2 linked regions of the Homo sapiens genome follow. The protein of the gene in region 2 interacts with the protein of the main gene of each other region in a pairwise test. Each region holds a gene or a part of one and is shown on either strand. Other genes may lie near its edges.

Region 1 (3,500 bases), on a different chromosome or scaffold from region 2:
GCACCCCAACCTGGGCAACAAGAGAAAACCTCCAAGACAAAAAAAAAAAAAAAAGAAAAGAAATAGTTAACTAAAAGATCATTAGAAAAACATCCTACCGAAATACAGTGTGAGAAAAGGAATTTTAAGAAATCCCTAAAAGAACACAGCAGATGTATAGCATACAGTCACACAAGCCAGAGGAAAGACTGAATAAGGCAGAAGCAATATTTGAAGAGATAATAGCATAGAATTTTACAAAACTAACAAAAAGCATTAACTCACAATTTCAAAAAGCTCAATAAACCCCACATAGGCAAAGAAAACTACACTGGGCACATCACAGTGAAACTGATGAAAACCAAAGTCAAAGAAAAAATCTGAAAACCGGCCGGGTGCGGTGGCTCATGCCTGTCATCCCAGCACTTTGGGAGGCTGAGGCAGGTGGATCACCTGAGGTCAGGAGTTCCAGACCAGCCTGGCCAACATGGAGAAACTCCGCCTCTACTAAAAATACAAAAATTAGCTGGGTGTGGTGGCGGGAGGCTGAGGCAGGAGAATCGCTTGAATCTGGGAGGCGGAGGTTGTAGTGAGCCGAGATTGTGCCACTGCACTCCAGCCCAGGTGACAGAGTGAGACTCTGTCTCAAAAAAAAATAAAAATAAAAATAAATCTGAAAACCTTGCCAGAGAATGAAAGACAAATTTCTTTCAAAGGAGCAACCACAAGACTGACAACTCACTATGGGTATCAGAAAAACAATGGAATGACATTTTTAAAGAGAAAAATAAAATCACTGCCAATATAGAATTCTATCCTCAGCAAAAATATTTCTCACAAATGAATTTTAAATAAAGATGTTTTCAGACAAAAGCTGAGATAATTCACTATCAGCAGATGTGTACTATAAGAAATACTAAATATTCACTGCCCTGGTACTTCTCGGTGAGCTGAAAGAGGAAAAAAAGAAATACTAAATATTCTTTAGACTGAAGAAAAATGATACTAGATAGTAACATTGAACTAGATGAAGAAATTTAAAAAGCTTTCTTTGGAGAATGATAACACCATGTAGAGCCTCTTCAATTTTTGGTTTTGTTTGTTTGTTTCTGAGACAGAGTCTTGCTCTGTCACTCAGGCTGGAGTGCAGTGGGGCGAGCTTGGCTCACTGCAACCTCTGTCTCCCGGGTTCAAGCGATTCTCCTGCCTCAACCTCCCAAGTAGCTGGGATTACAGGCACGTGCCACCATACCTGGCTAATTTTTGTATTTTTAGTAGAGATGGGGTTTCGCCATGTTGGCCAGGCATGTCTGACCTCAAGTCACCTGCCTCAGCCTCCCAAAGTGCTGAGATGACAGGCATGAGCCACTGCACCTGGCCTCTCTTGAATTTTTTATTATATATTTATACTGAAAATACATTGATGTAGAATATATTCTGGAATAAATTCACAGTCTTTTAGAAATTATTAAATTTCATTCATTTTGTAGACAGCTGTAGGAAGCAAAATGAAGAAAATGTCCTTGAAAAAAAATCCTAACATAGTAAAAGAAGGACGCTATAATATATTTGGACTAAAGAAAAGGGAGTTGAGGAGCAATTTTAACACTGTTCAGGAACATTTAGAGTTCTAACATACACATTCCTTGATATAAAGTTAACAAAGATTTACAGAATACCTTTTTTTACATTTTAATAATTTATTTATTTATTTGTTGTGAGACAGAGTCTTCCTCTGTTGCCCAGGTTGGAGTGCAGTGGTGCAATCATGGCTCACTGCAGCCTTGACCTACTGGGCTCAAGGAGTCCTCACACCTCAGTCCACCCTCTCCCTCCCTCCCAGTAGCTGGAACAGGTGTGTGCCACCACACGTGGCTAATTTTTTTTAGTTTTTGTAGACATGGGGGTCTCACTATGTTGCCCAGGCTGGTCTCTCAAATTCCTGGACTCAAGTGATCTCACCCTGGCCTCCCAGAGTGCTGGGATCACAGGTGTGAGCCACTGCACCTGGCCATAAGACAGTTTTTAAAATGAGAAAAACTGGTGTCAGGGAGGTTAAGCAATGGTCTTATAACAAGTACAAAGCAGAATAGCATTGCCCTGAAAGATGTGGTCCTTCCATCCCTGATACTCCAGGATGATTTGAGACAGTCAAGTATTATACTTTACTTCCACTAGAAGGCAGAAAATGATGTGAATATCCACCTTATTTAAATCAAGCAAGAGAAAAAAACTGGTTCACTAAGGCTGTAATGCATTTAGAAACAATCAATTTAAATTCTTTTTTTTTTTTTTTGAGACAGAGTCTCGCTTTGTCACCCAGGCTGGAGAGCAGTGGCGTGATCTCAGCTCACTGCAACCTCTGCCTCCCAGGTTCAAGCGATTCTCCTGCCTCAGCCTCCCAAGTAGCTGGGATTACAGGCCTGTGCCACCACACCCACCTAATTTTTGTATTTTTAGTAGACACGGGGTTTCGCCATGTTGGCCAGACTGGTCTCGAACTCCTGACCTCAGGTGATCCGCCCCCGCCCTGGCCTCCCAAAGTGCTGGGATTACAGGCGTAAGCCACTGCGCCTGGCCTGAATTTTTAGTAGAGACAGGATTTCACCATATTGCTCAGGATGGTCTTGAACTCCTGACCTCAAGTAATCCACCCGCCTTGGCCTCCCAAAGTGCTGGGATTACAGGCGTGAGCCACTGCACCTGGTCCATATAATTAATTTCTGTTGTGATTCACTATTATTCTAATAGAAATAAACTCCTGGCTAGCAAAATAAATAACTTGAAAATATCTTTTCCCCTGCCCCCAAATTACTATTTAATATGTCTTCTTCAATACTGCCATACTTGGAATTTATTCTTGATAACTTATCTTTTATAAGTAAATTGATTTACATTAACTTTAGTCAACCACCTTTCACAAGGGATTTTATTATATTTCTTTTTTTTTTTTTTTTTTTTTTTTTTGGAGAGACGGAGTCTCACCATGTTGGCCAGGCTAGTCTCAAACTCCTGGCCTCAAGTGATACTCCCACCTCAGCCTCCCAAAGTGCTGAGATTATGGCACCTGGACATTTTATTGTATTTCTTACACATTTAAACATTTTTAAAGTTGAAGATTACAAACTGTTGGGCACATTTAGGAAAATTTTATTTATCTAAAACTCATCACCTTTTTTTTTTTTTTTTTTTGCTTTTTGTTTTGAGACGGAGTCTCGCTCTGTCGCTCAGGCTGGAGTGCAATGGCGTGATCTCAGCTCACTGCAACCTCCGCCTCCCAGGTTCAAGTGATTCTCCTGCCTCAACCTCCTGAGTAGCTGGGATTACAGGTGCGTGGCTACCACACCCAGCTAATTTTTGTATTTTTAGTAGAGGCGGGGTTTCATCATGTTGGTCAGTTTGGTCTTGAACTCCTGACCTCGAGATCTGCCCACCTCAGCCTCTCAAAGTGCTGGGATCATAAGTGTGAGCCACTGCACGCGGCTGAGTATGTATTTTTTTTTACTTTTTTTTTCTGCTCA
Region 2 (3,500 bases):
TGATTTGTTACAAAAACTGTTTCGGAATTCCAACAATATACATTAATAGTCTTAGGATAATTCTAGGATGTTATCTTTTGCAAACAAATGGCAGCCACTTAGGAACTCATGGAGGCTGACAGGGGCAGCATGGCACCACAGCAGTTTCTAATTTAAGAGCAGGTGCCGATAAGCAGTCTGAAAGGAGCTTTTGGTACAATAAAGTGTATGAGTAAGTCACACTGTTCTGTATATATGAGACACACATGAGGAATTTTCTGGAGCTATTAATACAGTTCTTGAATGTTCTGAATTTTTTAGAGATCTTTCTCATGAAAAAACTTTTTCAGATTGATAGGTTATATGATTGGAAAAAGAGTCCTGACTCTGATGTGGCTGCTACTTTAAAGAAGCAGAAAAAGAATACAAAAGATGAATTTGAGGAGCGAGCAAAGGCTATTATTGTAGAATTTGCACAGCAGGTAAGAAGGCCTTCCTTCTTTCTGAAGAGCCTATCTCAGAATATGTATTATATTATCTTTATAATGAAGTCAGCATTTTCATTAATACTGGTTCTTTTCCTCTGTTGACAGCAATTACTTTTTTTAAATTCTTCTTCCCTTTTCTCCTTTTTCTTTGCAGTCTGAATACTTTAATTTAGAAAACTGAGTTGACTTAGAACTACTTTGCTATAATACAGTTAATGCTTATAGGATATACATGATCATTTTTAGTGTTTATGAGGAGTTTCAAAATGATGAGCCATTTGCTCATCCGGCTTCTAGTGAGGCACACCTATTCCAGATACGTTTTCTTTACAGCCTGGCATTTTGGATGATTTTTGCTCCTAGGGTTTGAATGCTGCTTTGTTTTATGAGAATAAAGATCCCCGCACTTTTGTGTCTTTGGTACCTACCTCTGCACATACTGGTGATGGCATGGGAAGTCTGATCTACCTTCTTGTAGAGTTAACTCAGACCATGTTGAGCAAGAGACTTGCACACTGTGAAGAGCTGAGAGCACAGGTGATGGAGGTAATGATCAACTTTTCAGTTTATTGTTTTTTTTTTTTTTAAAAATAGCAAGTTCCTTGAGTGGAGGATATTTACTACTTTTAGATTTAATGAACATGGTGCATTGTATGTATGTCTTTCTCTTTGCATTAATGCCTTTTAGGTTAAAGCTCTCCCGGGGATGGGCACCACTATAGATGTCATCTTGATCAATGGGCGTTTGAAGGAAGGAGATACAATCATTGTTCCTGGAGTAGAAGGGCCCATTGTAACTCAGATTCGAGGCCTCCTGTTACCTCCTCCTATGAAGGAATTACGAGTGAAGGTATGCTGAGGTGGGAAGCATTGACACGTGGGGACTTGTACAGTGTTTAGAAGTTCTGCTGAGATGGTTTCCTCACTTTGAAAGCTGTTTGACTTAATACAGAACACATACATCCCTCGCTCTCCCTTTTATTTTAGTTGTCATCATACAGGAAGGCCTGTCTGTCAGAGTAGAGATGTGTGAAAGTACCTGCTTACCAGACTGGGCCTTTGCCAGATTCTAAACTACACTGTTATGGTTCTACACTGCTAAATACGGTTGACTCTTGAACAACATGAGGGCTAGGGGCACTGACTCCCTGGCCAGTTGAAAATCCACATATATTTTTTGACTCCCCAAAAACTTAACTCCTAATAGCCTACCATTGACCAGAAGCCTTACCAATCACATACACAGTCGACTAACATGTTTTGTATGTTTTATATATTACATACTGCATTCTTACAGTAAAACAAGCTAGAGAAAAGAAAACGTGATTAAGAAAATCATAAGGAAAATAGATTTACTATTTGTTAAGTGGAAGTGGATCATCATAATGGTCCTCATTCTCATCTTCATGTTGAGTAAGCTGAGAGGGAAGAAGGAGAGGGGTAGGCCTTGCTGTGTTTGGTGGCAGAGGCAGAAGAAAATCTGAGTATAAGTGGACATATGCAGTTCAAGCCCATTTTGTTCAAGGGTCAGCTGTAGTTTTTTAACATTTTTAATTGTGAAATAAAACATTGCTCCTGAAAAGTACACACAACATAGAAGAAAAGTTTAACACATTTTTGGGAAGCAACCAGATGGAGAATCAGAACGCTGCTGGCACCCAGAAGCTTCCTGTGTGCTTCTTCCTGATCAACTCCCCTGCCTTCCCCTCCTACCCCCTGACCTTTCATAGAGTTAACCATGGTTGCATTTTATGACAGTAACAAATATCCTTGCTTTGCTTTGTTTTTGTGTCTAAGAGTACTTCCCTTAGAAGTGTCTGTAGACTTTATGTAGAAATGGAGTTATTCTCAGTGTGTACTTTTATAGCTGGCTCTTTTTTTTTTTTTTTTTTTGGTGATAGGCTCTCACTGTCACCCAGGCTGGAGTGCAGTGGTGCAGTCACAGTTCACTGCAGCCTCAACCTCCCCGGGGTTCAGGTGATCCTCCCACCTCAGCCTCCTGAATAGTTGGGACTATAGGTACGCACCACCACACCTGGCTAATTTGTTTACAGATGGGACTTTGTCATGTTGCCCAGGCTGGTCTTGACCTCCTGGGCTCAAGCAATCCACCCACCTTGATCTCCCCAAAGTGCTGGGATTATAGGCATGAGCCACCATGCCTGGCCTATATCTGGCTTCCTTTAGTGAAAAAAAAAAAGTATATAATTTTAAGATTTCTATTCCATTGTGTGACTATATCACAACATATCTATCTGTTCTGTTGATGGGAAATGTAGGTGATCTCCAGTTTTTTATGTTTATTTTATTTTATTTTATTTTGAGATGGAGTCTCAGTCTGTCATCCAGGCTGGGATTACAGGTGCACGCCACCACACCCGGCTAATTTTTGTATTTTTAGTAGAGGTGGGGTTTTGCCGTGTTGGCCAGGCTAGTCTCGAACTCCTGACCTCAGCCTCCCTAAGTGAGCCACCGCACCCGGCCCAGTTTTTGATTTTTGTTGTTACTAATAATGCTGCTGCTGTGAACATCTCTTGATGTGTTTGTGCCAGTTTCCCAGGGTATGTATACCTAGGAGTGAAGGCCACACTTGTCTACAGTGGGTGTAACAAATTATATTCTCAACTGCAGTATTTTAGTTTCATTGTTTTACAGCTTCATCAGTTCTTGGATGTTAGGTTTTAAATTTTTTTTGCCATTCTGCTAAGTGTGTAGCTCATTGCCGTTTCAGTGTGCATTTGCCTAATTGTTAACCTGGTTGGTCATTTAAAAATGTTTATTGGCCATTTATTTCCTCCTTCGTGAGATGTACATTTTTCTTCTGCATTATCTTTCTTACAGATTTATATGCGCTTATATATTCAGGATACCGGTTTGTTAGTTGGTGTGTTTTGCAATATCTTCTACTCTTGTGACTTTTTTTTTCCTGTGGTATTTTGAGAAATGGAAATATTTAATTTTAATGTTAAATTTATCAGTCTTGTGATTATTGCTTTTTGTGCCTCGTTTAAGAAACCTCTCTCTAATATCATG

The links.
Region 1: the proteins of EIF5B (region 2) and SRSF12 interact in a two-hybrid assay, tested with the Homo sapiens proteins (one large-scale study listed by BioGRID).

The regions. Positions count from the first base shown.
Region 1 is NC_000006.12:89,101,072-89,104,571, forward strand, and holds part of SRSF12 (serine/arginine-rich splicing factor 12), read right to left. Parts: intron 1-3,500. UniProt on the Homo sapiens protein: Splicing factor that seems to antagonize SR proteins in pre-mRNA splicing regulation.
Region 2 is NC_000002.12:99,389,389-99,392,888, forward strand, and holds part of EIF5B (eukaryotic translation initiation factor 5B), read left to right. Parts: intron 1-329; coding exon 330-461; intron 462-830; coding exon 831-1,013; intron 1,014-1,155; coding exon 1,156-1,317; intron 1,318-3,500. UniProt on the Homo sapiens protein: Plays a role in translation initiation.